2 separate regions of the Homo sapiens genome follow, and region 2 is linked to region 1. Evidence: fine-mapped expression QTL. A gene starts in region 1. The other region holds a variant in brackets. All regions are shown on one strand. Distances are from middle to middle. Region 1 holds the start of ADGRL3 (adhesion G protein-coupled receptor L3). Region 2 has its middle 28 kb from the start of LINC02496.

The links. PIP is the estimated chance that this variant, and not a neighbour inherited with it, causes the effect.
Region 2: its variant is fine-mapped to the expression of ADGRL3 in subcutaneous fat (GTEx, PIP above 0.99).

Annotation. Positions count from the first base shown.
Region 1 is chr4:61,193,124-61,208,675 of GRCh38, reverse strand. It overlaps ADGRL3 (adhesion G protein-coupled receptor L3), which reads right to left and starts at 8,350. Exons shown (of 27, transcript NM_001387552.1): 1 at 6,911-8,350. LOC124900173 reads right to left here and starts at 9,589. Exons shown (of 3, transcript XM_047416555.1): 1 at 9,502-9,589; 2 at 6,911-8,534. The coding sequence starts at 9,589. The coding sequence ends at 7,360. RefSeq lists an enhancer at 5,632-6,204.
Region 2 is chr4:60,714,981-60,730,532 of GRCh38, reverse strand. No RefSeq gene overlaps it. Among named protein-coding and RNA genes, the nearest start is that of LINC02496, 28 kb to the left of the region's middle. RefSeq lists an enhancer at 5,357-6,556. The variant TG/G (reference allele first, on the strand shown) is at 8,740.

The sequences.
Region 1 (15,552 bases):
AGGTGTTTTATTAATTCTTCCTCTAAAAAATGCTAATAACCCTTCATGAGTTCTAAAGTGTGAGAGTAAAATAAAGTCGATTATCTTTTATATGAAATTTTAAAATTTACTAACATTTTAAGACATACTCTATAATGGTGTGAAATATAATTATGTATCTGAATCACATGGGGAATTGATTAAAGTTTCCTAGGACTCTCATGAGACCCAATAATAATGATGATGATAGTAATCATAATAGCAGCAAACAATTATGTTATTATTATGCACCAGGAACTGTTTTAAGGACTCTGCATAGATTTACCAATTAAATCTTCATAATCTTCTGTGAATTTGGTACAATTGTTAAATCCATTAAAAATACCAGGAAATTAAAGCATAGAGAGATCAGGTATCTTGACACAAATCCAATAGCTTATTCAACCTAGGCAAACACACTCCAGAGTCCCTTTCTGTTCATCTCTACACCACTCTGCCTTTCTAGATATCAAAATATCTTGATCTAGGGCCTAGATCCAGATATTTTCCCCTTGACTCCTTTGTAGCCTTCCCAAGAGCAGTCAGCAGATCAGGCTGCATATCTGCTGCTTTAAAGTTTCCATTTCACTAAATGGGGACAAAAAATCTAAAAACAAGTTTTCTACACTGGATTATTTGGAAATAGAATAATGAAAATGCCAAATAATTAATAACTATATCCAACCTGCCTATCTTTTTACAGGTTGGACATCTAATCATTTTCTCATCCTACATGGCTCTTTATGTGGCTGGATGGATGGCATTTTAGAGCACAAGGAGGCAGATCTCAGAAAAATCTACCTGAGCCATTCTCAGACTTTCTGGCCCAGGACTCTTTTATACTCTTAAAAATTAATGACCTACATTAGAGAAATGCAAATCAAAACCACAATGAGAGACCATCTCATGACAGTTAGAATGGTGATCATTAAAAAGTCAGAAAACAATAGGTGCTGGAGAGGATATGGAGAAATAGGAATGCTTTTACACTGTTGGTAGGAGTGTAAATTAGTTCAACCATTGTGGAAGATGGTGTCGTGATTCCTCAAGGATCTACAACTAGCAGTACCATTTGACCCAGCAATCTCATTACTGGGTATATACCCAAAGGATTATAAATCATTCTACTATAAAGACACATGCACATGTATGTTTACTGTGGCACTGTTCACAATGGCAAAGACTTGGAACCAACCCAAATGCCAATCAATGATAGACTGGATAAAGAAAATGTGGCACATATACACCATGGAATACTATGCAGCCATAAAGAGGGATGAGTTCATGTCCTTTGCAGGGACATGGATGAAGCTGAAAACCATCATTCTCAGCAAACTAACACAGGAACAGAAAACCAAACACTACATGTTCTCACTCATAAGTTGGAGTTGAACAATGAGAACACATGGACACAGGGAGGGGAACATCATACACCTGGGCCTGTTGCAGGGTGGAGGCTAGGGGAGGGATAGCATTAGGAGAAATACCTAATGTAGATGATGGGTTGATGGGTGCAGCAAACCACCATGGCACGTGTATACCTGTGTAACAAACCTGCACATCTGCACATGTATTCCAGAATTTAAAAGTATAATAATAATAATAATAATAAATGACCTAAAGTGACTTCATGTTTTTATTTTATTTTATTTATTTATTTATTTATTTATTTTTTGAGACACAGTCTTGGTCTGTGGACCAGGCTGGAGTGCAGTGACACGATCTTGGCTCACTGCAACCTCTACCTCCTGGGTTCCAGCGATTCTCCTGCTTCAAGCCTCCCGAATAGCTGGGACTACAGGCATGTACCACCATGCCCGGCTAATTTTTGTATTTTTAGTAGAGACAGGGTTTCACCATGTTGGTCAGGTTGGTCTCAAACTCCTTACTTCAAGTGATCTGCCCATCTCAGCCTCCCAAAGTGCTAGGATTAGAGGTGTAAGCCACTGCACTCAGCCTCTAAAATGACTTTTGATTATGATATCTGTAACTGTCACCATTCAAGTATTGATAAACTGGGAAAATTCTAAAACTTGAGAATACATAAGAACATATGACATATGCCATCAGAGCAATGATGCCATCACATATCATATACCTTCTGGAAAACTCCACTGAACACGTGTTAAAGAATATGAGTGAAAGGCAAATAATGTCTTAGCATTATTATAAAAAGGTTTTCTTTTCACATTTCCTCTGAAAGGGTGTCAGAGATCCCCAGGGTTCCCCAGAGGACACTTTGAAAACACTGATAAAACAGCATTGTTTGCTTTACAAAGTAACTGACATGGAAGTTTTGCCAGGCAGAAACATTCAGTTGGATGATTTATTTTTCCATCCCAAAAATAGTTTTCAAAATAAGTAGGATTACCATCCACAATATTCCATTTAAATTCTTGAATAATATGGACCAAATTTTCACTTCTTTTAACACCTATTTGTAATCACTTTTATGAAGACATTCATTAAAATTGAAACTAAGTTCCTGTTTTAAGTGTCAATAAGACATAAGGAAGACATGATTTATCAAGGTCTATAGAACCTATTATGAGCAAATATAGAAACGCTCCCCTTTTATCCACCCCTCAAAATAAATAAAGAAGTTCAATTAATTTCAAGTAGGACAGCTATTTTCTCTTTTACATTTTGTGCTTATGAATCCATAAGCACATGTCACAATTCTAAGAAAAAAGTTACACTTGGTTTCTTATGCAGCAGTAGAATTAATTTTATTGGACCATGCTGACACTCAGATCAGAGTAATGACATTCAAGATTTGGGGAAAAACTTGCACACCTTAGATGCATAAATGCTATTTACAAGCATGCTCACGCTACATTCTCACAATGTATTACAATGAATGAAAAATCTGGATTTTTCTCTCCATTGATCAACAACTCCCTAGCCTTCACCCTACCCTACCCGACAAAACACAGAAAGATAACCAAGGAAAAATGTCAGGAGGACCTTACTCATACTTGCAAGTTTTACTTTTTATTTAATTATAAAATTGGTTATTCTATGAAGAAATGCATTCGCATGAAATAAGAAGACATAAATATAATAATCTAAGTGTAAATATGTCCTGTGGGCAAACAAATAATAAATTACAATACAGCTGTATTCTTTAGGGTTCCTCCCAAAGTGAGCAAATGCATATTTTGAATATAATGCAAATCTAGGAAAGAGAAGGCAAAATAGCCATTTGCAAAACTTAAGGACAGATCATCCTTTTTAAATTCCAACTACTCTAGCCATTCACACCATGCTAAATTAAGGCTGCACAGCATTTCTTAAAATCACTGTTTGATCCTAAATATGAAAATCGCAATCAGTTTTCCTTGCTGATTTCTGGGCCAAAACTCCCCACTTCTAACAGTAACTGTCACTTCTACTTGGCAGTCCTTTTCAAAGAGAGTTTCAACCAACACTTAAAGTGGTCCAAATCCAATCTGAAAAACAATTCAGTTTTGCATCATATTATTTGACTAACTTCAATCCTCATGACTTTATAGTCTTTTTAATCTACTATTTATGATTTCCTTGGCTATAGCTCACAAAGGAATCAATGGTAAATCAAATCCATAAAAAAAATCTGCCTTTCCTAATTAGTAGAAACAATGCCAGCCACAGTAGCTGCAGCCAGTAAGTGCCATACTTGCTATTATTCCCTGTGGAAAAGAGTATTTAAATCTGCAAAATGTTAAGAAGATCATGATTAAGAAAATCATTTCTGAAAGACTTTCCATTCATATTTTTGAGGAGCACTCTCAGTCTGAAGGATAATCACACCAAGCAACCAAAAATGAGACATCAAAAGCATTTACCCATCAGGCAAATCACATACTGGCTTATCACTCTTCAGGCCGGGGATGCCTGATGCAGCCTAACATCTCTATCTAAAAAAAAAAATTAATAGTTCATATAAAACTTTGAGTTAATCATTCCTCCTACCCTGATTTTGTAGAAATAGTCTAGTCAACCATATACACAAATAGATCAGGTTACTGAATACTTAGTGATAAGGAAGAGCTATGGAATGGCATTCAAATACTCTGACACATTCACCTTCAGCTAAAGACAGCACAATACACTGACACACACAGTTCTAATGACATCAGGACCTGTGGAATGTATGACTGCTAGGGAACACATGCTGCTAGGAAACAAAGAACAGATCTGATCAAATCTTATAATGTAAGGACTGGGAATCATTGTGATTAGATCTTGGAAAATGGGAGGACAAGTATTCTTTAATCCTCAGAAATATTTGCAAGTATAAAGACTTTAATACGTATCATCTAGAAATGAAACAAATACGTGAAGCTAGATTCTCATGAATTAAATCAAAATTTTCTAAGTTTTCTATTAGGGTGATGGCCATTAGCAATATCTCTCATAAAAATATAACTTAAAGTCAGGCATCAGTGATTCAGTGTCTTTTGCAATCTATGCTTTTTCAAGAGGTCAAGGTCTTTAAAAAATAATGAAGATATCCAGAAATTATTGTACCTAAAAATAAAGTACACTGTTCCATTAACAGCCCTATACTTTTTAAAACAAAATAGAGCACAAGTATTTGCAACAAACACCAAAGCAGTCAGAGCTAATCTAGACCTAAGGAATTTAATACATTTTAATTATTGAAAGTAAAAAGCAGTTTCACTTGCAAAAGTAACACTTTATAAACTGTGTTTATCTATGTACAGTCTTTACCCTTGCTTTGGTTACAAAAAAAAAAAGATTGGGTGAAACAAAGCTGAGAGATAATTCAACACACAAATATCCTCTTAACTCCTATACAAATTATCTGGTATCCTATTTTGGTGATTATAAAAGAGCTGAGAATTCTATCCTATTTGTAATCCACATGCAGATAAATTGGGCGCCAGAAGTCCAGATCATTTAGAATCATTACAGATGGAAAAATATACAAAAGAAATCTTACCAAACTCTGTTTATTCTCATAGGGAAATATAGGAAAGTCTCCAAATGAAAAAGTGCTAAAGAAGTGTTTCTTTGCAGATTCTACGATGACATTCTTTAACTAGTGATGAAAGCCCATATGACACTAAAATTAGCAGACTGCCTATTTACTTCAGAGCAAAACACAGAAGGCAATTTTTCCTTCCTGCCAGAGTCTATGCGTCTCCTCATTTCCCCAGCAGCTGGCTGGAAGGATGTAAAATCAGAGGTGCAAGAAGCCTTATACTTCCTAATGAGTAATACAACCAGGAAAGTAAACACAACAGACGACAGCAGGTTAGACTCTAAAGGAGACTGTGGCAGGAGTGCTTACACCGTTGTTTACAATGTGCTCTAACTACCGCAGGCAGGGATCACACGCAGACACAGGGAGGAGACACCCTGGAGGTGGCTCGCAAGCCTCGAGTTCTCCCAACTGCTATGATATCTCTGGCCATAAATAAAAGCAGCGCATGTTTCTATCAGAGGTAGGAAAGTGGCCAGAGAATTCCAGGGACCAGGAGTTACGCTGGCTGGACTCGATTACTTCAACCTGCTGGAGAGATGACTACCCTATGAGGTTCTCATCAGGGCCATTCTGGGGTGCATCGAGCGCTGCACCAGCGACTCTCACGCGCCGCACGCATGTCGCCGAGCTGCGCCTCTCCAGGGGAAGGGGACACGGCAAGGTTTCCTCGCCACCCTGCGGGGGCCCCCGTGGCCTCCTCAAACCAGATTTTCCAGTTAAGAGGATCCCAGGCGATTTCAATAAGCAAGCTCAGCTCCAGCAGCATCAGCTCCGGCATCCCCGCAAATATCTCTCTGCCGTCCCTGGGGCGCAAAAATGCGCACACACTCAAACGCTGACTCCGCCGCCAAGTAAGGCTGGTAGAGGAGGTCGCCCCCACCCCTACACACCACACACACACGCACAGACACACACACACCCACCTATAGTGCTGGGGGCCTGGCACCCTAAGCTTCTGAGCTCCGACGTGGGACCGGAGGCTGGGTCGCGGCAGCTCAGACGCTGCGCTGCAGCCTGGAGCCTTCCCTTCTCCTCAGAGAAGCGCCGAGGTGCCTTCTCTCCTACCTGTAACCCGCCAACCGCGACCACCAATGCTCTGCCCACCCCGCCCCGGCGCCGCGGCCGCCCGGATTCGTGCAACACCGCCGCCCCCCGCCCAGTGCCCACTACCAGCACAGCGCAGCCCGGGCCACCCACGAAAGTGGCAGCTTTCTCCAGCCAAAACCGCCTAACAAAGCCTGGGCACGCAGGTCTAAACCAAACTGCCGTGAAGGAGACACAACAGGCAGGGCGCGGGGAGGCAGCGCGACTCCAAGACTCAGGGGCGCGACCTGGGCAAAAGGGGCCAGGGATGCTCCAGGCAAGCGTTGAGGGAGAATCGCGCCGGGCTCGGCACCCTGCATTTTCCATCTTCCCAGAGCCCAGCTTCTCACCCAGACCCTGTCCGTCCTCCAGCCCGCTCCCGCCTCCAGCGGCACCAGTTCCAGCCTGACGGAGAAAAGTCGCCCTCCTGTCCGCTTTCTGCCCCCACCAGGGGATGCCACTGGGGTGAGAGGAGAGGGAAAATTAACGGGGTGGGAACTGTTCCTATTCCCCAGCGTGTGCAGCTGCGAATGCGCCCAGTCTCTTATCCCCCTCACTCCCCTCGGCCGGTCAAATCGCCCAATGGCTGGAAAAAACTCCAACCCGCGCCAGACCCGAGCGCCCACCAGCCAGGAGGTTCCCTTCCCGCCCCGCACCACGACCGGATGAGTGTGTGTGTGTGTGAGGGCGAGTGTGTGAGTGGAAGGGCGAGTGTGCATGCACCCCGCACCCCCTCTTGTTGCCCGCCCGGTGGATGCCGCCGCCTGCGCCCGGCCAGGGCGACCCCTATTATGAAGAGTGCGAAGAATAAATTACCTTTCGTAAACGCCGGTCCCTGAGATCGTCCCATCAGTTGCTCAACAACCTGAAGGCGGGTGCAGTTTCCACAATCCAGCCATTGAGCCCGGGGCAAAAGACCGGCCGGCCCCTGTGCAGACACCCCCAACCACACGCGGCAAATAACGAGAATCGAAGCGCAGAGAAAGCAGCAGGAGGGTGGAGACCCCAGTCAAGGAAACAACAACAAAAAGTCTCTCTTCCCTTTCTTCCGCTACACAGCCACGGAGAAAGGGGAAGGAAAAAGAGAGCCAAATGTTCGCCTTCCTTTACGTTCCTCGCTTCACACACCCCAAGGGGGCAAAAGGGGAGCGAAAAGAAAAGAGGGTTCAAATGTCTCTCCCAGTCCACAGTTGCACAACTTCGGAGTCAGGCTCTGTCTCCAGCAGCAGCCGAGGGACCCAGCGGCAGCTATTAACATGCGGCAGTCATAGCTGGGGCTGCTTCTCCTTCTCTTGCTGCTGCTGCTGCCGCCGCCGCTTAAGAAAAGACGCTGCCGAAGAGACCAAAAATCTTCCACCATCCCCCCAGCCGATCTTTATATCCAGTTCTCCCACCCCACCCCCCTTCTCTTTCTTTTTCTTCTTCCACGTCCTCCCCTTTCCGCCTCGGAGCGGGAGCGATGGAATAGGTAGGGGGAGCCGCGAGGGCCAGGGGTGGCTTCTCCGCCAAACCGTCCTCCTCTTCGTCCTCCCGAGGCTCTCTCCCAGCCGAGGGTCCCCTCTCAAGCCCGCAACCTCCGCGGACAGCCGGAGCGAGAGCCACACAAACTCCTTCCCCGGTGCACGGAGGGGGCGCGCAGACAGAGCGGGCGCCCGGCCGCCGAGGGCTGCGTCCCGGGGGCCGGCGAACCCCGAGCCCGTGGGGTGGATGATTAGCTCGCCGGCCGGGCCGGGCAGCTGCGGGCATGTGGGAGCTTCATCGCGCGGCCCCGGGCTCTGCGCCGCCGCCGCTGTCTCTTCGGTTCTTTCTCTTCTTCGACTCCCCAAGAGCGAGCGAGGCACTGGCGCTCTCCAGACACGCACACTCACACACGCGCACACACGAGCGAGCTCCTGCCAAAGCAAACCGTGCAACCCGCGCGCGCGCACACCCGTAGGAAGAGGACCAAGGCAAAAAGAGAAGAAAGAAAGGGGAGGGGGCGAGTCACAGGCGGCGGTGGCGGCGGCAGCAGCTGCCGGAGCGGAGGCAACGAGCAGTCCGAGAAAAACCAGCAGCAGCGGCGGCGGCGGCGGCGGCGGCGCCCACCCCGACCAGCTGCAGCATCTGCATCCCCGCTCCTGGGAACTGGAGCGAGCGGTGCCGGGCCAGCAGGCGAGGGGGGCGACGCGCAGACAGCGGGTCAGAGCGCGGGCGCGCGGGGACCGTGCAGCCTGCGCGCGGGGTAGGCGCAGCCGGGGCCGGAGCGGAGGCCAGAATGAGCAGCGGTCGGGCGGGCCAGCGGCAAGAGCTCCGAGAGCCGGGGAGGGGGCTCGCGCCAGGGAAAGGGGTGGCCGGCAAAACCCGGATATGGAGTGCTCGTGGGCTCCGCGGCGCGGGCTCCACCTAGCAGTTCGGCAAACGCTTGGAGGTGGGAACGGGAGGGCTGCTACTAGAGGCTTCCCTTTCAGGGTTTGTCAGACAAAGGGTACCTCTCCAGTGGCTTCGAGGCCCGCCTCGGCGCTCGCTCTCCCTCTCTCTCTCTCTCTCTCATTCTTTCTCTCTCTCTCTCTTCCACTTCCTCCTCTGTCCCTCCCTCCCTCTCTCCCCCTCCCACTCTCCATCACCTCCCTCCCCCCTTTCTCCTCTTGTCTTCCTCTCCCACTCCACCCTAGGTGAGTAAACGACATCAGCTTGAAAGTCCTGCCAGTGTCTCATTTTTTCAGGTGCGGATTATTCCGTATTTTCATTATGCAAGTACCGAGTCTGAAAATGTTTCCTGCCTTTGGTCAATTTTATGTTCCTTCAAACTTAACTCGACCTGCAAGTTCATTGCACGGTTTAAAGTATCCCTGTCTGATGAACAATCGTGGAGATTCAATTATCTTATTTCACATCATCAATGGAAATTACCATAATGGATACAGAAAGGTGCGGATTCCAAAACCATGCCTTCTGACAGAGGAAAAGTCTGGTCAAGTTAAATGAGTGGCCTTGGTCAATTGCTGAACCTTTTGGTGCCTTCTTTGTAAAGGAGACTGTTGATTACATAATTTGTAAGGTCTTTTCCTGCTCTAAAATGTCGTGATTTCAAATGGCTAAGATGTTATTTTCTATACCAGTACACTCAAATCATTAAGATTTATCATATTCATTCAACAAGCACATTACATCCCTAGCTAAATTTCCCAAATTGTATTTCAATGTATACATTTAGAATGACCTAACGACTTCTAGGAGCTCTTTAAGAGGTAACATCAATCCTAGCATATCTGAAGAACCTGAAACCTCATTAGAATTAAAAACATACCCAACACAAAGTGACAGTTAAAATGTCATTCATTCTTTAAAGCTCAACTCCAATCCAACGTTCTCCAAGAAGCCTCTTCTCACCAAGACTCCTTCCCCAAAAATCACTCCTTTCATGATACCCTGTAACATTTTGATGACATCTCCTCTAACACCTATTTTATTCTGCCTTTTTCCTTGTTCCTTTTTAATCATTAATGGTTTGTCCATTTGCTTCTTCAGATTACAGTTTTTCTTGAATGCAAATGGCTAGTTTTAATCATCTGTATAAGGAAAGATTATATCTACAGTCCTTTGCGCATAGTTAGTCCTTTAAAAAAATTGGGGGTGGGAAGGGAGATTTAATGATATTGCTGAATTCTGACCAACTAGATGTTCACAAGCTGAAGTTATGCTACTTGAATTTGCTTAATACAGGACATCCATGAACTCCCCTGGGTACTTAAAGAAAATACAAATTGACATCTGGAGTCACTTGTTACTTAAATAGTTTTGGAAAGAGTAAACTCTAGCCAATTGTGACAAGAGGCTCTTATTTGTAAAGGAGGAAAAATGGAAGTTACTCAATTCATTTCTCAAATGCTTAATGGTTGTATTAAGTATAATAAAACAACCAAGTAATAAAAATAACATTGTAATAATATATATGATGACAAGTATAGATATTAAAGATTATTAGTGGTAGCATCAGAAACATTAAATACATATTTAATATTTATTTAGATCGATAAAAATATATAATGACAATATATAGATATTAAAGATTATTAGTGGTAGCATGAGAATATTAAATAAATAGTAGCTATAGATCAGTTTTTAGAATCATCTTTAACACAACAGAGGTCTGGAGGGATGCAGGAAAATGAAATTTCAAAGTAAAAGTTTTACATGTATATTTATACACACACATATGTACACACATAGATATACATATATGTGTATCTATATAAATGAAATATTAACTGAAAACTAAGCATAGTCAGTTAAATAAGTAATTGGAAGTGTTCACCACGGAGGAGTTGACCACAAATAAGCAAAATTACAAAGACAATAACGAGGGAGAAAGAACCAAAAATCGGGGTGTGTGAATAAAAATAACCAATGAGTAAAGAAAAGCAATGAAAGAAAGAGAATAGGTTAATGGTTTGTATAACTTAATCAAATGTCAAGGCAGCATTATTTAAGGCAGCTGCTTATATTTTAATCTCAAACTTCATGCTTCCAAGTCATTTTTAATCTCATGGACATAGTCTTCTATATCTGATTTAAGACATAAAACATCCCACTTCATTGCCAGGAAATCCATGACTCTTGCCAATGTTCTTCTAAGGTGAAGCTTCCATAAAAATAAAATAAATTCTGTGTCCTCTTAGCTACTGTATTTAACACCTATGTTACATATATTTAACACCTTCTTCTCAAGGAGAAGACATCATACAGATGATGTTTGAGCACAGATACTATCATATGATGTAACTCTGTGCAAACTAGAGTGGTTTTTTAGAAAGATGGCACTGTAGGCTTCAGCACCGTTAAAATTGAAAAAAAATAATTTTTACCAAAGGGAAAAGGGCTCTAAAAATGAAAAAAAAAAGTGATTATCTAATCAAATAAGATAAAGAGAATTAAAACATTTAAATGACTAATTAAAATTTTTAGACCAAAGACCCTTTCAAATCAATAAGAAATATACTAAGATCCCCACAGAATGGAAGTTTAGAAAAGACCTTAAAACCATCTGTTCACAGAATAAATACAAATGGCCAATAAATGCAAGGAAATATGTTCTGCCTATAGAAATCTAATACATAAAAATAGATCCATTTAGGAGATCTATCATGTTTCATGTTTTTACCATAAAATTAACTGAAATAGCAACAGTGCTCTATTACTAAACTCTAACGAAAGTGTGTTGAGACAGGCATGCCTCCATGCTAGTAATATATAGTGACACAATTGCTCTAGAAAGGAAGCTGACAATATGAAACAACTGCTTTATAGAATATATATGCCACTAAATCCAGTGTTTCTATGTATAGATATCTCATCTACAGAAAAAAGCAGAGATATGGACAAGGATTTTGTATAATGATATACATCTCAGCCATAATTGCTATAAAAGGGGAGAGGGTATGTAATGTTTACATATTCAAAGTAATCTTGCTTTTTTCATACTCAATAAAAGCCCCCTTATCGGAATGAAATCAATAGTTAGTGGGAAAAAGTTGATAAGCAAAAATAATTTTTTAAATGATGCATACATACTATATTAGTTAAGATTCAATTTGGCTTCAAGCAACAGAAACAAAAAGTAGCAGTGACCTAAACAAGACAAATTTGTTTCTTTTTCAAATGAAAATCTAGAGGTAGGTGGTCTAGTGCAGGTATGGCCCTCAAAAGCATTCCAAACTGAAATAGACACTTTGTCTTCTTGCTCAGCCATCTGTGGCCACTGTTGCTAATTTCAGTTCCAGCAATCACACCTACCTTGCAAGAGCAAGGACGAAAGGGAAGAAGGAGGAAGAGAAGAGCATTCTTGTATCCAGGGAAAATTTCCTAAAGTTGCATACACCATTTCCCCTTTCATTCCATCCTTTACATGGAAAATGTAGACTACTCTAGGCAGTCATGTGTCCAAGTGAATATCAGGATTCTTTCATGATTTAGCTCCTCCTCATCCTTTGGCTTACCATTGCATACCACCCTGGGCTGGGCTTGCATATATTAGTCTTTCAGTAACCAAATGTGTGGATAATGCAGACACGTGACAGTGCTACTCTCACATGAAATGACCTTCTACTTCAACCAGATGTAAGCTTTCACAGGATTTCAAATTACTGAGCTATTGCCATCAGGGACAATACTCTCTAATACTCAGTCAGATATCCGCAGACAGTTACTATCTTAAATGCTACTGGGCCTAAATTCACTGACAAATCAAGGTAATCAGAGTTAAATCACATCTGCAACGCAGACAGCAAAGCATAGCACTCAGACTCCTAGGATGCCATGGCATGATTAGAATTTTAAGGCATTTGGTATTCAGTAGAATAATGATGCAAATATGGATTACATAGGGCTATCAGAACATATTAGACTACCCTATGGGATAGCCCAATCCCAAGAAGCACTCAGTGACCCTTTCTGTACCCTGGGATATTTCTCAAAGGACCATTTTAAGTCTATAAAATCTTACCCAGATTATATTGCCCTGCTAATTTGGTATCTTATATTCCCTCCTTGCTTCAAGTTATTCACCCTTCTTCTTTTTCAATCCAAAAAAGACCCGTGAATTCTACATTCTTAATGACTTGGAAGCTTAGCTATAGATACAGATATCAATATAGATGTAAATCTAAATATTTTTAAACAGCTTCTCCTAAGTAGTAAACATTTTCCACATATTGACTTCTTTTCTTCCAATGGAAGTGTCTCCTTAAAACTCTTTATTATAATTTCTCAAATGTTTGCATACAGCATGCCAGTTCTGAAAGACTGTGAAAGCAACAAGTCTTTTTTTTCTTGTAACTTGGTTTTTTTCCTGTAACTTTTCTAGCTACCTTGTCTTAGATCCCACAGTTAGATTACCTTTCATAACTCCTCATTAGTTTCAACACAGAATGGTTATAGCTACTCACTATAAATGTTAGTGATAGTACCCTGCTCTAGTGGAAGTATTCAGCACTCAAAGAGTTGCGTTAAAAGTGTGACATCACGGTGCCTAGATTCTAGTCTCCAGAAATATAAAAGTATTCAAGAGCCCAACACTATTTTCTTAAGATCCTCTCATCTTTATAAGATAAAGTATACAAATATGTTTGTACTGTACTAATGAAAACATCGTGGTCAACCAGAGATAGTCAGTAATAACTGTCATAGTCTAGAAAGGAAGAAAATGGAATTTTTGATCCTTTATAAAACACTGCCACTTTTCTGGGCTCTGCTTTTCAGCCTCACTCCTTTAAGACTATAATAGACACAGATAGTAGATGCCTGACTCATAATTACCCCTCCTTCTCTGAGAACAGCTTCCACACATGATTGGGCAGATGTGTCTATGAAGTGGCCTTGTTCATACTATTTGGCCCTGACTCTTGGCCATGGTTGAAGGGTCCAGGTACAGGCAACTAATGCAGGCTTGGCTAATCAGAATTATTGTCAAGAATTTTTCAGACTGTACTATACCAAAGGTCTCAATATATTCTTGATGGTAAGGAAAGCTAAGGAGCTATCTACAATGGACTGGATGTTTGTGGCCCCACAAAACCCATATATTGAAATCCTAACTCCCAACATAATGATATTGGGAGGAGAGGCCTTTGGAAGGTAGTTAGGTCATGAAGATGGAGCCCTCATGAATGAGATTGGTATCCTTATAAAAGGGACTTCAGAGAGCTCACTTACTCTCTTTCTGCCATGAATAGACATGAAAAGCTGGCACTCTGCAGTCCAAAAGAGGGCCGTCACTAGAATCTGATCATGCTGGCACCCTGATCTATTTCTCAAGAACTGTGAGACATAATTTTCTGTGTTTATAAGCCACCTAGGCTATGGTACTTCATTTTAACAACCCAAATGGAATATGACACTTTTCACAGCTACATTATCTGCCACATGGTGGTATCTAAACCTGACTTAGTGCAATATTTTCCTGAAGAATGCAATCAGATTAAAATAAATATTGCTAGACTTTATCATAAATTCCTGTTTCTTTTGAATGCATATTTTAAATCCCAAATCAGATAAGCATAGGGAAAATTCTGTATGGATATGCAGTTATAATGCTAACATGCAGTCTGTGTTATGGTGATAGCTAGGAAGTTAGCTTCTCCTTCAGATTACCTACTGGATTTCCTTAAAATCTGAGCTCATGGAAGGCATACAGCATTACTCTTCTGAGAATGTTGGTCACATTATTTCTGCAGTACTCTCAGTTAGATGATTTTCTCATATCTGACATCTTATTCTATTATATGGCTCACCTCTTTTCCTATAAATAACAAAAATAAGATTGATCAGAAAATAATGGTTATTCTCCACTCGGAAATATGAGGGGTCTTCAAAATGTTCACAGAAAGTACATATTATTAATAAAAACTATGCATGGATTTCAAAACTTTACTGCACCAAAATAAACTCATACTAACTTGTTATAACATGACTGATGATGATCTCATTTAAGGCTCTGAGAAAGGTAAAACAAAAGTTTGAAAAGAGCCCCTAGCAGAGAAACATGCATTCTGCTACAATTAAAGCAAAACCAGTCATCAAATTTATCATGACGCTTAGGTAGAAGAATGGTGAGCTCACTGAAGCTTTAAAAAGTTTATGACAAGAATGCTCCAAAGAAACCAGTCATTTACAAATGGATAACTAGTTTTAAGAAGGGATGAGACAACGCTGAAGATGAAGCCCACAGACGCAGACCATCTACATCAATTTTCAAGGAAAAGAATTCATCTTGTTTGTGACCTAACTAAACAGGACCAATAATTAACAACAGAGACAATAGGCAAGACCATAGACATCCCAATTAGTTCAGCTTACACAATTCTGAGTGAAAAATTAAAGTTGAGCAAACCTTCCACTCAATGGGTGACAAAATCATTGAGCCCAGATCAGCTGCAGACAAGAGCAGAGCTTTCAATGGAGATTTTAAATAAGTGAGATTAAGATCCTGAAGAATTTCTTTGAAGAATTTTAATAATAGATGGAACATGGCTTTACCAGCATGATCCTAAGGACAAAGCACAATCAAAGCAATGGTTACCAAGAGGTGGAAGTGGTAAACTTCCCAGGACCCTCAGTTCTTTAGGAATGTACTAAATGGCTGGGATCATTGTTTACTAAAGTGCCTTGAACTTGATAGAGCTTATGTTGAGAAATAAAGTTTATATTTTTTACTTTTATATTTTAATTACATTTCCATGAATTTTAAGTCCCTCATACATTGCTCAGACCCATAGCAGGTATTCAATAAATGTCTGGTGAATGAAATAATTCAAGATAAGTGCTGTATAATATATAATATTAAATACATAAGATGTATAAATACATCAGTATCTATTAAACTATGTCTGATTAATATTAATATATCTATCATTCTCTTAAGATTATAGATTAATAGAATTTATTCATCTAAATGAGAGTTATCAAATTCAAATTAGTCACCT
Region 2 (15,552 bases), 480 kb after region 1:
TCCCATTACTGGGTATATACCCAAAAGATTATAAATCATGCTGCTATAAAGACACATGCACACGTATGTTTACTGTGGCACTATTCACAATAGCAAAGACTTGGAACCAACCTAAATGTCCAACAACGATAGACTGGATTAAGAAAATGTGGCACATATACACCATGGAATACTATGCAGCCATAAAAAATGATGAGTTCATATTCTTTGTTAGGACATGAATGAAACTTGAAACCATCACTCTCAGCAAACTATAGCAAGGAGAAAAAACCAACACCCCATGTTCTCACTTATAGGTGGGAATTGAACAATGAGAACAAATGGACACAGGAAGGGGAACATCACACACCGGGGCCTGTTGTGGGGTGGGGAGAGGGGGCAGGGAAAGCATTAGGAGATATACCTAATGCTAAATGACGAGTTAATGGGTGCAGCACACCAACATGGCACACGTATACATATGTAACAAACCTGCACATTGTGCACATGTACCCTAAAACTTAAAGTGTAATAATAATAAAATTAAAAAAAATAAATAAAAAATAAAATAAAATAAAATAAATGAAAAAAATATATATATATTCCCTAGAAATGTATATTTTATAGGCTATGTAATATCACAGCCTCTGTTTTGAGGTTCAGTCCAACGTATACAAAGCCCAACATAGAAGTTACCTGTTAATTCTTTCTAACAAGCCAATGATTCTCAACTTGAAGTCCTGGCCTCCCTATGATCACAGAGCTATGGTAAAGGAGAATGGAATTTTATAATCTGTAATGTATATTTCCATACAGAGAAGACTTAGATATACTTGCAGTAGAAAAAGCAGTAGAAATTGAATATTCTTGTTCTTTTCATGTAAGCATGTGAGTATCACTGAAGACACAGTTGTATGTCTCACCTTCTCTCCACCAGAAATTTCCAGGTCTTTGGAGTTTGATGAAAAAAATTATAGGAACTCAATTTATTTGTTGAGATATTAATTTTAATACTGAATGCCCTGTCAAGGTATTGGTTGGGATACACCTAATACTTAAAATAGTGGGCAAATTACTCTGCTACTGACAGGAATGTGATTACATGAAAAGTAATTCAGTGTGGGTGGTAAATGACAGGAGGAAGTTGAAAGAAGTTTTTTAAAAGATTATTTGTGAATCATCTCCTTAGAGGTAACTAATAAGAAGATGGAATCATGACTCACAGAGTCCTGAGGAAAAAAAAATATATTAAAAAGTGGATAACAGCTTTGGTAAGCAGTAGGGGCTCTTCTAGTTAAATTACAGAATGAAGAAAAGGAAATGAGGCATTAATTAGACAATAATTTCAAATTGGAAAATACAAAGTTAAATTGTCCCTGTTTGTAGATGACACAATTCTATACATAGAAAACCGAAGACTTCGCCACAAATTGAAAATAAACTTATTTAGCAAAGTTGCAGGATGTTAAATCAATATATAAAATCAGTAACTTTTCTATACACTAACAGTGAAATATTCAAAAATGGAAACAACAAAAACAGTCTCATTTACAATAGCTAACAAAAAATGAAATACTTAAGAATAAAGTAATTTTTCCAAAGATGAAAGATCTGCACACTAAAACTAAAAAACATTGATGAAAGAAATTGAAGAAAACACAAATATATGGAAAGATATCCTCTGTTCCTGAGTTGGAAGAACTAAAATTATTTAAATGTCCATATTATCCAAAGCTATCTACAGGTTTAATGCAATCTCTAGCAAAACCACAATGACAGTTTTCATGGAAAGGAAAAACAATCCTAAAATTTGTATAGAGCTACTAAAGGCTTTAAATAGCCAAAGCAACCTTGAGGAAAAAAGAACAAACCTGGAGGCATCATACCACCTGACTTCAAAATATACTGCAAAGTTATTATAGTAAAAACAGTATGGTAGTGACATATAAATAGAAAGACAGGCCAATATAACAGAAAAGAGAGTCCAGAAATTCATATATTTCTGGTCAATTGATTTTTGACAAAGGTGCCAATATCACAAAATGGGGAAGGGACAATCTCTTTATAAGTTGTTTGGGGGCAACTGGATATCCATATGCAGAAGACCAAAATTAACCCTTATGTCAGATCATGTATAAAAATCAATTCATAATGGATAAAGACTTAAAGGCAGGACCTGAAAATGTAAAACTACTAGAAGAAAATATAGGTGAAAATCTTGATGGCATTGGTTTGGGCAATGATTTTTGGATATGAACTCAAAACCACACACAAAAGAAGCACAGATATAAATGTGATTACATCAAACTAAAAAGCTTCTGCACAGCCTAGGAAACAATCAACAGAGTGAAGAGACAACCTGTGAAATGAGAGTAAATATTTGCAAACCATATATCATATAACTAGGTAATATCCAAAGTATGTAAGGAACTTAACCATGTAGTAAGAAAAATAACCTGATTTTAAAATAATCAAGGGATCTGTACAGAAAATTTTCAAAAGATAACCAGCAGGTATATAACAAAATGCTCAAAATCCTTAATCACAAAAGAAATGCACATTGAAATGACAATGACATATTGCCTCACGTCTGTTAGAAAAGCTATTACCAAAAGAAAGAAAAAAAAGGTAATAAATGTTGGAAAGGATGTGGAGAAAAGGGAACCATGGTACACTGTTGCTAAGAACATCAGGTAGTACAGCTATTACAGAAAACAATATGGAAGTTCCTTAAAAAAAAAAATAAAACTACTCTATGACCCAACAATACCACGACAGAGTATATATCCAAAGGAAATAAAATAAATATGTTGAAGAGATGTCTATACTCCCATGTTTACTGCAACATTGTTTACAATAACAAAGGTGTGGAATAAGCCATCAATAAATGAATGTATGAAAGAAAGTGTTCTCTCTCTCTCTCTCTGCATCAGTCTATATATGCACGTGCGCGCGCGCGCACACACACACACACACACACACACACACACACACACACAGAGTAGATAGAGGAAAATACATTATATTGGTAATTAGGACCTAGATTCCACATTTGAAACTCCCAGATTTCTGACACTTAAAAAAAATTCTTATATCCTGTTGTATGTCATAGCTTTTTCATTTGTAAAATGGAAAGTTTAATTTATTGATTTCCAAGACTATAATTATAAAATATTAGAATTCTGAGTGTGACAAAAATGTGAAAGAAAAAATTATATGTAGTAATATAAATGAAACAATTTTGATTTTTCATGCACATTATATTAAGAAATATACAGTATATGATTTCAATAATATTGTTAATTACCTATTTTCACATATAAATATTGAGCTATGCACATTCTCTAAAAATGTCTTTTTATACTTTTTATATCTTCTACCTGCAATAAAAAAATCTTAGAACATAGGCCAAATGAAAATGTACAGAAAAATAAGACTTTGAGTGATATCAATCATATACTTTGCTCATCTGGATGCAGCAGAAGCATGGATTAGTGGCATAGCCTGGGTTGAAGCCAAAGGACATCACAATAAAGGGCCTTGAGCCTTTCCTCTGGCCAGATGTGTACATGAGGCACATGCTTTCTTTCCTAGATATGTATCTCACTCTGGGAAAGAGCCAGACAAACAGGCCTATGCCTGAGATATTTGAGTGACTGAGAAATTTTTCCTGGTAAGACTGATCATTGTCTAAATGGAATCTTAAATCACAAAACTGGATTTACATTATTCAAATTATTAATATAATTTAAATTTGTCAAATTTGAAAGGCTCTTTAAATTTGTTAAAAGACAAAAATTCAACAAATTTTGTTTAAATATCTAATTGGCCTTCATTAGCAATTTGTGAATCAGAGAGCTTCTCATCTAAAGATTTACAAAAGGCACTCAGATGAGCTGAGCAGAGGAGACTGGCTTTATAGGCAGAAAGGGCTGAAGAGATTAGAAAAATGGAACACAAAGCAGATTGGCTAGCATTTGTTAGATTACTCCAGGTTTCTTTCCTTTTTAGGGTTAAAGCAGAGGAGACGTTTTGTTTTTTATCATGTCTGATAAAACAGGAATGTTTGGGGATTTGGCTATTATCTTTCTCTGTTCTGATTTCTTGGTAAGTCAGATAAACAACTTAGTGTCAGTTTGTTAAATAAAGAAGTTTAGCACGAGTGACTCCATTTTGGTTTTGTCTGTTGAAGCCTAGTGCAGGAACTCAATCCAAACCAATGACTTCCTATAAATTTATTTAACAAATTATTGAATTGGATTAAGTTTTAAACATAAAATATCCAAAGTAGAAATTTTTCCTTTAACCCATAGTGAAACGTGGGGAGTAACAGACATTGGTTACAGGCAAACTAAATTAGGCATATTTCTCTCTGTATATCTGAGGTATTGTGAGTTTGATTTGGACTCCCATATATGCCACTTTATAAATCAGAGATCTTGGGCTGTATTCTCTTCCTGTTATGTTTAGATATATTGATGACTTCTAGAGTAGAGTATACCCTATATAAAAAGAAACAGCTTTTCATATGTGCCCAAGCTACAAAGTTCAAGGCAAGGGACCTTAGCGAGATCAGTCAAGGATTCATTGAGATTTCCAAACAAGAAGTTTAAACAACATGGCAGTGCACTCTAATAACTTATATAGCTGCATCACTATATGATAAGGAAGTTCCTTCTTAAATGTCTTCTTATTTTATTCTTGATGAGGTGTTCTTAATTTCCTAGTAGCAACCCTATCAATAGGAGTTAGGAATCCAAGGAGGTGAGGGTGGAGTAGGCATAAAATGTAAGTAGGTCATGTATGGCCCTTTATTTGCTTATTAAATAAATAACTGTTGATCACCTATGTTGTATCAGGCACTGCTCTGTGTGGTGGAGTTGAAAGGGTAAACAAGACAGACATGAAGTTTATGTTGCAATGAGGTGAGTTAGAGACAATAAAGCAACAAGATCATTTCAAATGGCATTAACTGCTATAAAGAAAATAAAACAAATTCATTTAATCAAGAGTTTGGGAAGTATGGAAGTTTGAAGCAGATGATGAGGGACAGACTCTGTGAAAAGCAATCATTTTTAACTAAATCAGAAGCATACGATAGGGTCAATCATATAACAATGGAGTTCAAGTGAGAATTTGGGCAAAGGAAATAGGCCACAGGGATCAACCTTGGTTACAGCAAGACAACAGAGATTAGTTTGGTTAGTGTGAGGGGCTGGGTGGGAGACAGGCGTTTGTAGAATTTGTCAGGGCTTAATTAAACAAAACCATGCTAAGTAGTTTGGATTTCTAAGTAGAATTATGTAATAGATAATATTGGTCCCCCAATTCCTTAGGATCTATATGACTATTTTTGTGCATATTTCAGTTTCTGTGCACTTTTCTTCTATGAATCTTGTTTGGAGGAATGTCCTCAAGATACTGGAGCCTGCCTGGTCCACACTTCAGAGAAATATCTGAAAATGTATGCCCACGATCTTCCACCCAATAATTAGATAATTAATAGGTGCAGCTTGTAGTTGGGAAAACACAGAGGCTGAATTTTCTCTTCAGAGTTCCTCTGTGGGATTAGGCTGAAGCTGCGCTTTACGGGATTTTGCCTGTGATGACACCCTCACTTGGATTTTGTCCTTTCTTGTCCTGCTTTCTCAGCTCTTCCCTGGGGACAGCTCCTTACCAGTTTCCCTGGGAACAATTTCTTATCAAATCACTTGCATACCAAAGCTCAGCTTACATTCCATCTGGGACACTCACCCTCTGACCAGTTGGAAGACTTTGGAGAAATCTAAAGAGAAAAACAAAAACTGACTAATGTTAAAAATATCACTGCGGCAGTTGTGTGAAGAATGGATAATGGGGGCTGGGGGAAAGCAGGGAATAAGGAACAAAGGTAGGCAGGTTGTATTAGGCTGTTTTTGCACTGTTATAAAACAATACCTGAGACTGACTATAAGAAAAGAAGTTTAATTGGTTCATGGTTCTGCAGGCTGTACAGGAAGCATAGCACTGGTATCTGCTTTTGGGGAGGCCTCAGGAAGCTCACACTCATGGTGGAAGGTGTACGGGGATCCTGGACATCACATGGCGAAAGCAGTGGGGAGAGAGAGTGGATGGAGAGGTGCCACACACTTTTAAATGACCAGATCTTTAAGAACTCATTCGCCATGGTGAAGCTACCAAGCCATGAGGGATCCACCCCCATGACCAAAATGCTCACAACCAGGCCCCATCTCCAGCATTGGGGATTACAATTCAACATGAGATTTGAGTAAAGACAGATGTCCAAAGTGTATCACAGATGAATGAAACCAAAATATTTCTCCTTGAAATATTGAGAATTGTTAAGTTAATGTCACTAAAAACATAGGAGAATGCTCTGCCTCAGCCTCTATTTGCCTGGTGGCAGGACATCGTTCCCTCCTTACTGGAGACGACACTTGCTTATGGGCCCAGGGAAGGCACTAGCAAGCACCAGAAGAATCTGGGAACAGATTTTACAATCTTTTCACATGTTCCTGCCTTTTAAAAGACTGGAACTGCTCTCTCCTCTGTCTTATCACTAGATAGGATTTATGGCTCTTTGTTAAAGTACTATTTAAGCAAGGCCCATAAACCACTACCTTGAGAGAGAAATACTTTTAAACTGAGGCCTCTCCTGCGTGATGGGTACAGCATGTTTTAATAAACTTCTGGTTGTTTTTACTTTTCTGTTAATTTGACTTTTTGTTTTTAGGAGATGTCTCAACTAAGAATTTTAAAAGAAACTATGATTTCTCCCCTACAATTTTTCAATGCAGCCTGGAAAAGCAGAGATAATTCACTTGTTCTGGGACCTATAGAGGGAATCCTGAAAGAGAACTGGCAAAAGTCCACAGAAAAAGGTAAGGTTTCTTACTCAAGCCAGCTTCTCCCTCTGTGGTACCTGGTGGAGAGAGGAAAGTAAATTCTTTTCCTTGTCCCTGCCTTTCCAGGTTCATATTAACAGGAAAAAAAATCTGTAAAAAATGGTTATTTGAATTTGTGACTCTTGTAGATTTGTTGTACATACTTATTTGGTTATTGATTTGTCATTTTCCTAGGATGGTCTTTGTTTTCCTTGTTTCTGTATCTTCGTATGGTTTGTCATGAGAAGAAAAAGCCTCATAAGGTTCTCCTTTTGTCTTGTTTTATTTCTTAAGAAGTTTGGCTTTCTAACGAGCAAGTTTATTTTCTCATCTCTAACACCTTGAAGGGCACAGATTTTGTTAATCGTGTAAGGCAGCCATGTGGGAGTTCAGTTGGGGGTCCCAAATGTCTGTTTGTCCAAATGTGCCAGCTTTTGGGAATTGTTCTTAATTATCTCAACTTTCATTGCCTTGCTAATAAGGAGGGATATTACTTTCTTAGAGCCTCTTTTTGGTTTATTTTATCTTATTTTTTTCTAGAAACAGCGTATCGCTCTCTCACCCAGACTACAGTGCAGTAGCATGATTATGGCTTACTACAGACTCAATCCCCTGGGCTCAAGTGATCCTCCTGCCTCCGCCCCCTGGAGTGGCTAGGACTACAAGCATGCACCAGCACACCTGGCTAATTTTTAAATTTTTTGTAGAGATGGGGGTCTCACTATATTGCCCAGGATGAGCTCAAACTCCTGGCCTTTAGCAATCCTCCTGCCTTGGTCTCCCAAAGCACTGGGTTATAGCCTTGAGCCACTGCACCCATACTCTTTGGAAGAAACTTTAGATCTTGAGGGGTCACTACGTTTTTATACTCTCTTTAGGGATGCTATTCTTGCATCGGATTGTAAGCCATAAAAAGGCTTACTGGCCCAGCGTGGTGGCTCACGCCTGTAATCCCAGCTTTTTGGGAGGCCAAGGCAGGCAGATCACGAGGTCAGGAGTTCAAGACCAGCCTGACCAACATGGTGAAACCCCGTCTCTACTAACAAAATACAAAAATTAGCTGGGTGTGGTGGCGTGCACCTGTAATCCCAGCTACTCGGGAGGCTGAGGCAGGAGAATCATTTGAACCCAGGAGGCGGAGGTTGCAGTGAGCAGAGATTGTGCCATTGCTCTCCAGCCTGGGTGACAGAGCAAGACTTTGTCTCAAAAAAAAAGGCTTACTGGTGCTAAGTTACAATTAAAAGTGGATATACCTTTGAAAATTTGGACTTTTGTATCTAAAAGTATTTTTTTAAAGAGAGCCTTCTCAGTCCCTTGGAGTTGTAAATTCTACCACGGCTTTAAAACGTTAACATAGAGGAGATCAGTTAAGTAGTATTCTAGCAGAGATCAGATTTGAAAGAGAGTTACATTTCAGAAAGAAAAAGCCAAGGAAACAAGGCACAAGAATATTTGCCATTTGCCCAGCTAATATCTGCTAATTTTTTAAAGACTTACATATTTAAAATTTTACCTATAGTATACATATATTTAGGTTATATATATATATGTGTGTGTGTGTGTGTGTGTGTGTTTGTGTGTGTGTATTCTTAAGACTTCTGTTCTCTCTCTACAGAGGCTTCTCAGTTGACTAAATTCCTCTCTTTGTAAATCCCTGCTAACTATTAATCTATAAACTCCCTCTGCCTGTTTATCCTCTTGGTGACATAATTTTTGCCACAAGGACTTGCTCTTTCATTTACTTTTCTCTGTCCCTGCTTCCAGTTGCTATCCCTGAGGTCACATGAGGAAACCTAAGGAAGATTTCTAACGACACTAGGACCTCTTGAGAAAAACAGAAAAGATGCCAAAGAAAAACAGAGAGGTTTCCTTTTTT[TG/G]GGAAGGAAACTTCATTATTTTCTCATGGAACAGCAATATTTCTAAGTGGACAGATTCCTTGCAACTCCAAGAGTTGAAAGTAGACAAATCTAAAGCTCTCTGCTCTTTTGTATTAAACTCCTTGATCTCTTTGGCTTTTAGATGCATATATATGTGCATATGTATTTTATATGTTGTATTTACATGTATGTATATGTCTATACACATATTTGTATATTGTCTACATGGTACCAAATTAACTCAAAGGCAGATAAGTACCCATAAAGAAAATAAATAGCCCAAATATTTTTCAAGCTCATGTGATGTGAATACATTTTTTTTGATGAATAAGACTAGTTTAAAATTCTTGGTTTAATAAAAAGAACTATGTCTTGAGCTATTAGCAAAACATACATGTGTTTAATTTTTTTTGTTGTTGTTTTTTGAGACGGAGTCTTGCTCTGTTGCCCAGGCTGGGGTGCAGTGGCGCAATCTCGGCTCACTGCAAGCTCTGCCTCCCAGGTTCACGCCATTTTCCTGCCCCAGCCTCCCAAGTAGCTGGGACTACAGGCGCCTGCCACCACGCCCGGCTAATTTTTTTTTTCTTTTTTTTTTTTGTATTTTTAGTAGAGATGGGGTTTCATCGTGTTAGCCAGGATGGTCTCGATCGCCTAACCTCGTGATTCTCCCACCTCGGCCTCCCAAAGTGCTGGGATTACAGGCGTGAGCCACTGCATCCAGCCACATGTGTTTAATTTTAAGGTTCTTTATTTTATGGTACTTGCCTAACATATGGTAATATAAAAATGGTGAATAGAAAATTTAACTTGAGATGATGGCTAGATTTATCTAATGTCTCATAAAATTTTCCAACCATAATTGTTAAGATTAAATAAATAAAATAGATGAAAGTGAGATAAAGCTTATAAATGAAGTTTTAATCATTGCTTTTATGTTTAATGAAAAATATTTCTCAATTCTTTATGGTAACAATAACCTAAACATTTTGCTCAGCTAAGTTAAATGATAGATAGTCATTAAATATATACATCATTTTCAAAAAAGATGAAATGCTAAGACACTGATTACTAAATCTAGGCTTCTTATTTCAGAAAGACAAAAGATCTTTAGATATATTAGTAAATATATTCTGTTCCACGTTGAAAAATAATTCCATTAAAAAGCTGTATTTCTAAAAATCATAAAATGTGTATTAATAAATTGCTAGTACATGACTGACAATTAAAAATTATCCACTTCTTAGGTATTCACTATAAAGATTCCTAAAAATTAAAATTCTGGCTAATATGTGGTCACTAAAAGTTGCAATAAAAAGGGAAACAATTCTGTATACAGAATATATAATAAATGTAAGACTTTTTCATAAAGGAGATTATGACATTTGAAACTATGTTTTTGTTAAAAAAGTGATTTTTTTCTAGTTTATATGTCACTTTAGAATAAATGAAGAAAGGAAGCAATTAAATAAACTAAGTGGATATAGAAGTTGGAGAAAAAGGAAAATTGAAAAACATTATAAGACATAGTAAAAGGTTTAGAGAAATCTTGTGTGGTCAAAACTAATTAAGATTGGATGGATTTATTTATAAGGTTTTATTGAAATTATATTTAGTATGAATAATACAACTGATACAAAGATAGAATTTGATTTTCTCTTTTGAATACGATTTTTTTGTATATTATTAATAAGAGATAATAGAAGACTTTGGTTTTCCTTTTGAGAAAACTACAAAAAAAAATAAAAACAGAGAGAAATGTTTGTTTCACCCTATCTTTATTAGGTCTTTTTTTCAAAAAACTCTGTCTCCTACCAATCAGAGAGTAAAGGTTTTTACTTTTTGGAATCTGTTAATTATCACTTTGACTAAATAAATGATGATTATTTCACAGTGACCTGTGATCCTATTGTGATAAAGTGTTTTGTACCTTTGACACATTTGACAAGCTTCTCAAAATCAGATTTCAAATTCTAAATTAAGTCTTTTTGACCTCAAACTAACTTTTAGACATTCAAAAAAAGAGACAGAAGTCCAAAAGAGACATATTAGGCTTATTTGATATCTTAAATTATAGGGGAAGCATTGTCAAATAAAAAATAATGTTTAACCTTATTTGTGTTATATTTATATAAATGTGTTATTAATATGTGCTCCAAAATTGTATGAGATTTTTAAAAATTATGATACGTCTTGGTATATGTTACCAGTCAAAATTCTGATTATTATATTAAATTGTTGTATGCCTTAGAAATTACCAAATTTCCTTGTCAATTGCATCCTTAGCCATAGCTATTCTAAGGGTTTTGTCATCCACAGGCATTTATTGTTTTACTTTTATTCTTCTCAAAAGACTGTTTACAATTGGCTATAGTATAAAATTTGCTTCTTATTCAAGAAAATTAATGGAAAAGGATCATGACAAATACTTTTAAATATAGATTTCTGATAACTTTGTAGATCATACCATTGGACTGTGTAAAAATTTTAAGAACTCAAATGAAAACATTGATGGGTTCATAAAGATTACTAGCCCAACTTTTAGAAGAACATGACTTAATCACATAGGACTAAACTTGATACAGGAATAAAATGATTTTTTCAGGACTTCCTTTTGCTTAAATTATTATTGATTATTTTTATGTATTTCTTTCTGGAGTCAAGGAAACTATTTTCTTCTAATAAGCTACATATAGCATGCAGCAATTGGGTAAAATATGCTTTTGTCAGCAAAATTTAAACATTTGCCTTTGTCTCTACTTGATTCCTTGAGAATTTAAAACTATTTGTGGGTATTCATATTTTAAAACAATATAGTTATTTCATAAGTTCAGTAAAATTTTTCTTTCTTTAGTGGAACAATTTAAAACACAGGTTATGTTACTGGGGCCTTGACTGGGATGTCACATTTTCTGAAACGACTAGACTACTTCAAGAAACTAAAATTAATGCTAAGGAACCATTAACATTCTTGAAAGAACTGGCCTGGTACCTTGTCTATGCATTTCCCCTGCAAGGCTTCAGCATTATGGTAAGTAAAAAATGTCACTTTCTGACAGGCCCAGGAACCTCAAAATAATATGGGACCTCAAGAAAAGAATAATTTACCCAGTTACCACAGATAAAATCTGATGAGAAGTCCATGGCTTGGCTTCCTAGCCTAAAGAAGTTTTAAAGGTTTACTCTGAGATGTCTTATGATAATTTCCAACAAAGTAGATTAAAGAAAAATGAGCCTATGTGGCCAATCACTATGCTTGCTTCACTTTATGCAAATAATTAGGCCAAGTATATTAAAGCTAAAACTTATTTTACAATTAAATTAGTCTTACTATAAATATCTTTAGTGGCTGGGTGCAGTGGCTCACGCCTGTAATCCCAGCACTTTGGGAGACCGAGGCAGGTGGATCACCTGAGGTCAGGAGTTCGAGACCAGCCTGGCCAACATGGTAAAACCCCATCTCTACTAAAAATACAAAAATTAGCTGGACGTGCTGACAGGCGCCTGTAATCCCAGCTACTCGGGAGGTTGAGGCAGGAGAATCACTTGAACCCGGGAGGCGGAGGTTTCAGTGAGCTGAGATAACGCCATTGCACTCCAGCCTGAGGGACAAGAGTGAGACTTCATCTTAAAAAACAAAACAAAACAAAACAAAACAAAAAAAAACCTTAGTAAAAATTGGCTTAATTTTGAGTGTACACACACACACACACACATATATATGATTTTTGTAACACATTGTATATATAATAACATCATATATGTTTTTAAAAAAACATCTTCTATGTGGGCCAGGTGCGGTGATTCATGCCTGTAATCCCAGCAATTTGGGAGGCTGACGCTGGCGGATTACCTGAGGTCAGGAGTTCAAGACCAGCCTGTCCAACATGGTGAAACCCCATCTCTGCTAAAAATACAAAAATTAGCCAGGTGTGGTGGCACACGCCTTTAATCCCAGCTACTCAGGAGGTGGAGGCAGGAGAATTGCTTGAGCCTGGGAGGCGGAGGTTGCAGTGAGCCGAGATCGTGCCACTGCACTCCAACCTGGCTGATAGAGCGAGACTCTGTTTCAAAAAAAAAAAAAAAGCCATCATATGTATGTGTGTGTGTGTGTGTATGTGTATATATATACACATATATATACACACATATATATGTGTATATATATGTGTATATATATATGTGTGTGTATACATATATATATATATACACACACACACATATATATACATAAATGTTTTTTAAAAATCCTCTACAGCATACCTGTTATTAGATTCTAGCCCTCTCCATTGTTAGGTTTTATTAAAAACATTTTCTGAACTAAATTTCAAGTTGTAGTTTCTTCTATTATCTGGCCTCAACTTTCTAGACTAATGCTTTTAATTTATCTCCCAGTTTCCTGACTTAAAATCACTAAAATTTAAACCATGCTTTTCTGAAGCCCTACAAGCTAAAGTTAGACAACTTGATATTAACTTCAGAGAAAACACACATAAATGTATTTATGGACAAAAAGTTCACAGAAACATCTGGTACAAACTATTATCTAGGAAAATTTGTCAGATTGTCACTGTTTACTTCCATCGCAATTGTAGATATTTCAAACACAAATCTGAAATTTTCTCAGCTAACTGCCCTCCAAAACTCAAGCCTAGTTTGTAGGTTGCTCCAGATATTAATCTCTGTTTTTCTTTTGCTCCCATAGCAATGTTTCTTACTAAATACCTGTTTGCCTATACCATATAGAGAATTAACTCTAACAACAACCCACTTACACTACCACCTCCTGAAATAAAACACAACTGCTCAACTGAACTTACTATTCTCAAGACTAAAAAACTGTTTCATTAGGATATATGACATTTGTTCTTTCTTCTGCTTCCATGGTTTCTCTTTTTGCCAATCTCTTATCTCAAAACCTCTAAACCAAATCCCTCCAAAGCTACCATCTTGCCTTTTCATATGTAAAGCCTTCTAAAAGTAAAGTTTCAAAAGGGCAACTGAAAAAAAAAAACAAAAACAAAATATTTCTACCCCAAGTACTGAGAATTATTAAATTAAAGACATTAGAAACACAGGGGAACACTCTGCCTCAGCCTCTATTGCCTGGTGGCAGGACATCAATCCTTCCTTACTGGAGCACTTATTATGGGCCCAGAGAAGGCATCTTTCTTCTCTCTAGAAAGGATTTATGATTCTTGTTAAAATGCTATTTAAGTGAGGCCCCTAAACCATTGCCTTGACAAAGAGATACTTTTGGACAGAGGCATCTACTGTGTGACGGGTATAGAAAATGTTAATAAACTTCTGCTTCTTTTGTTAATTTGACTTTTGTTTTCAGGATAGTGTCACAACTAACAACCTGAAAAAAATGTTTTCTCCCCTGTACAGGGTATTTCAGTAATCTGGACTAGATTGCAAGCTATAGATTTCCTAACGTTTTCTAAAAGGAGGCTTGTTCACCGGAGGGATTGTCATAAATGAAGCAACGAAGTGTAGAAAGAACATAATATATTCTATTTCTCTGTGTCAATCTAGAAATTAGAAAATAAATTATGCTTCACTACTATTTAATTGGTAGATTGACAGAGCACACATACTTATGCTTCAGAAATAAGTTAATATATTGGAGAATGCGTCAAGATTTTGTATTGAGGAGATAGGTCACCAAAAATCTTTGGAGAACACTGATTTTGACACCAACCAGCTTTATATTCCCTATTAACATGCACTCTATTCTTGGCAATTTTATGGAATGCTTTTCTTGTGTATGTGTCCCTAGTTAAATGTCTTTGTGCCTTTATCCTTCATTCTGATGGAGAAGATTAAATTATTTGGGTGCTCCTATAGGTTGGCTATTTTGAAGAATGAGGCTATTCAATTTCTTCTAAAAATGAATAACAATTTGTAGGGGTAAGTCAGATAATTCTCTATTATTTTCTGAGGATAAGAAAATTAAAAGTGTTCCAGATGCTTTAAGTGTAATTTTCCATCTACCATAAATTTACTTCGGAAGGCTTTTATCAAACAAGGTCAGGGCATTAGTGCTCATTAAGGACTATATACATGCACGGCTTGAGAATTCATCAGAACACCAATCAGTTGTTTGAACTCAAAGAAAGTCTATAAAAAATTGTTGTGCTGACTTTTTTCCTCTCACTCAACAATCCACTGCCCTCCTTTCCATCAGATATCCCTGTTTCAAAATGTACATTTTATTATTATTTAGGGATGGTCAGGGCAACAGATCAAGAGACAATGACTATTAAAAAGATTGTAATTTAGTGTTTTTAAGAGGAGGGAGGGGCACACCATATCATGGAAGGCCATGCAGGGAAGCACAAAGGACTGGCAGGAGTTAGCAGGAGCTGGAGGAAAATGAGGCAAGAGCCTTTAATGTGGTTTTCACGAGAAAGTCAAAGTAAGACGGGTTTAAAATTGGCTAGTTTAAATAACTTCAGTGGATTCTGGGCATAGGGGCTGATATGGTTTGAATGTTTTTTCCCTCTCCAAATCTCATATTGAAATGTGACATCCAATGTTGGAGATGGGCCTTGTGGGGGGTCTTTTATTCACGGAATGGTTCTCTCATGAATGGAAAGGTGCTGTTCTCGAGGTAATAAGTGAGTTCTCTTTGTGTGAGTTCATGTGAAATATGGTTGCTTAAAAGAACCTTGCCCTTCCTCCCTCTCTCTCATGCTGCCTCTCACCATGTAATGTGCTGGCTTCCTCTTTTCCTTCTACAATGATTTCAACCTTCCTGAGGCCCTCACCAGGAGAAGATGCCAGCAATACACTTTCCGTGCAGCCTGCAG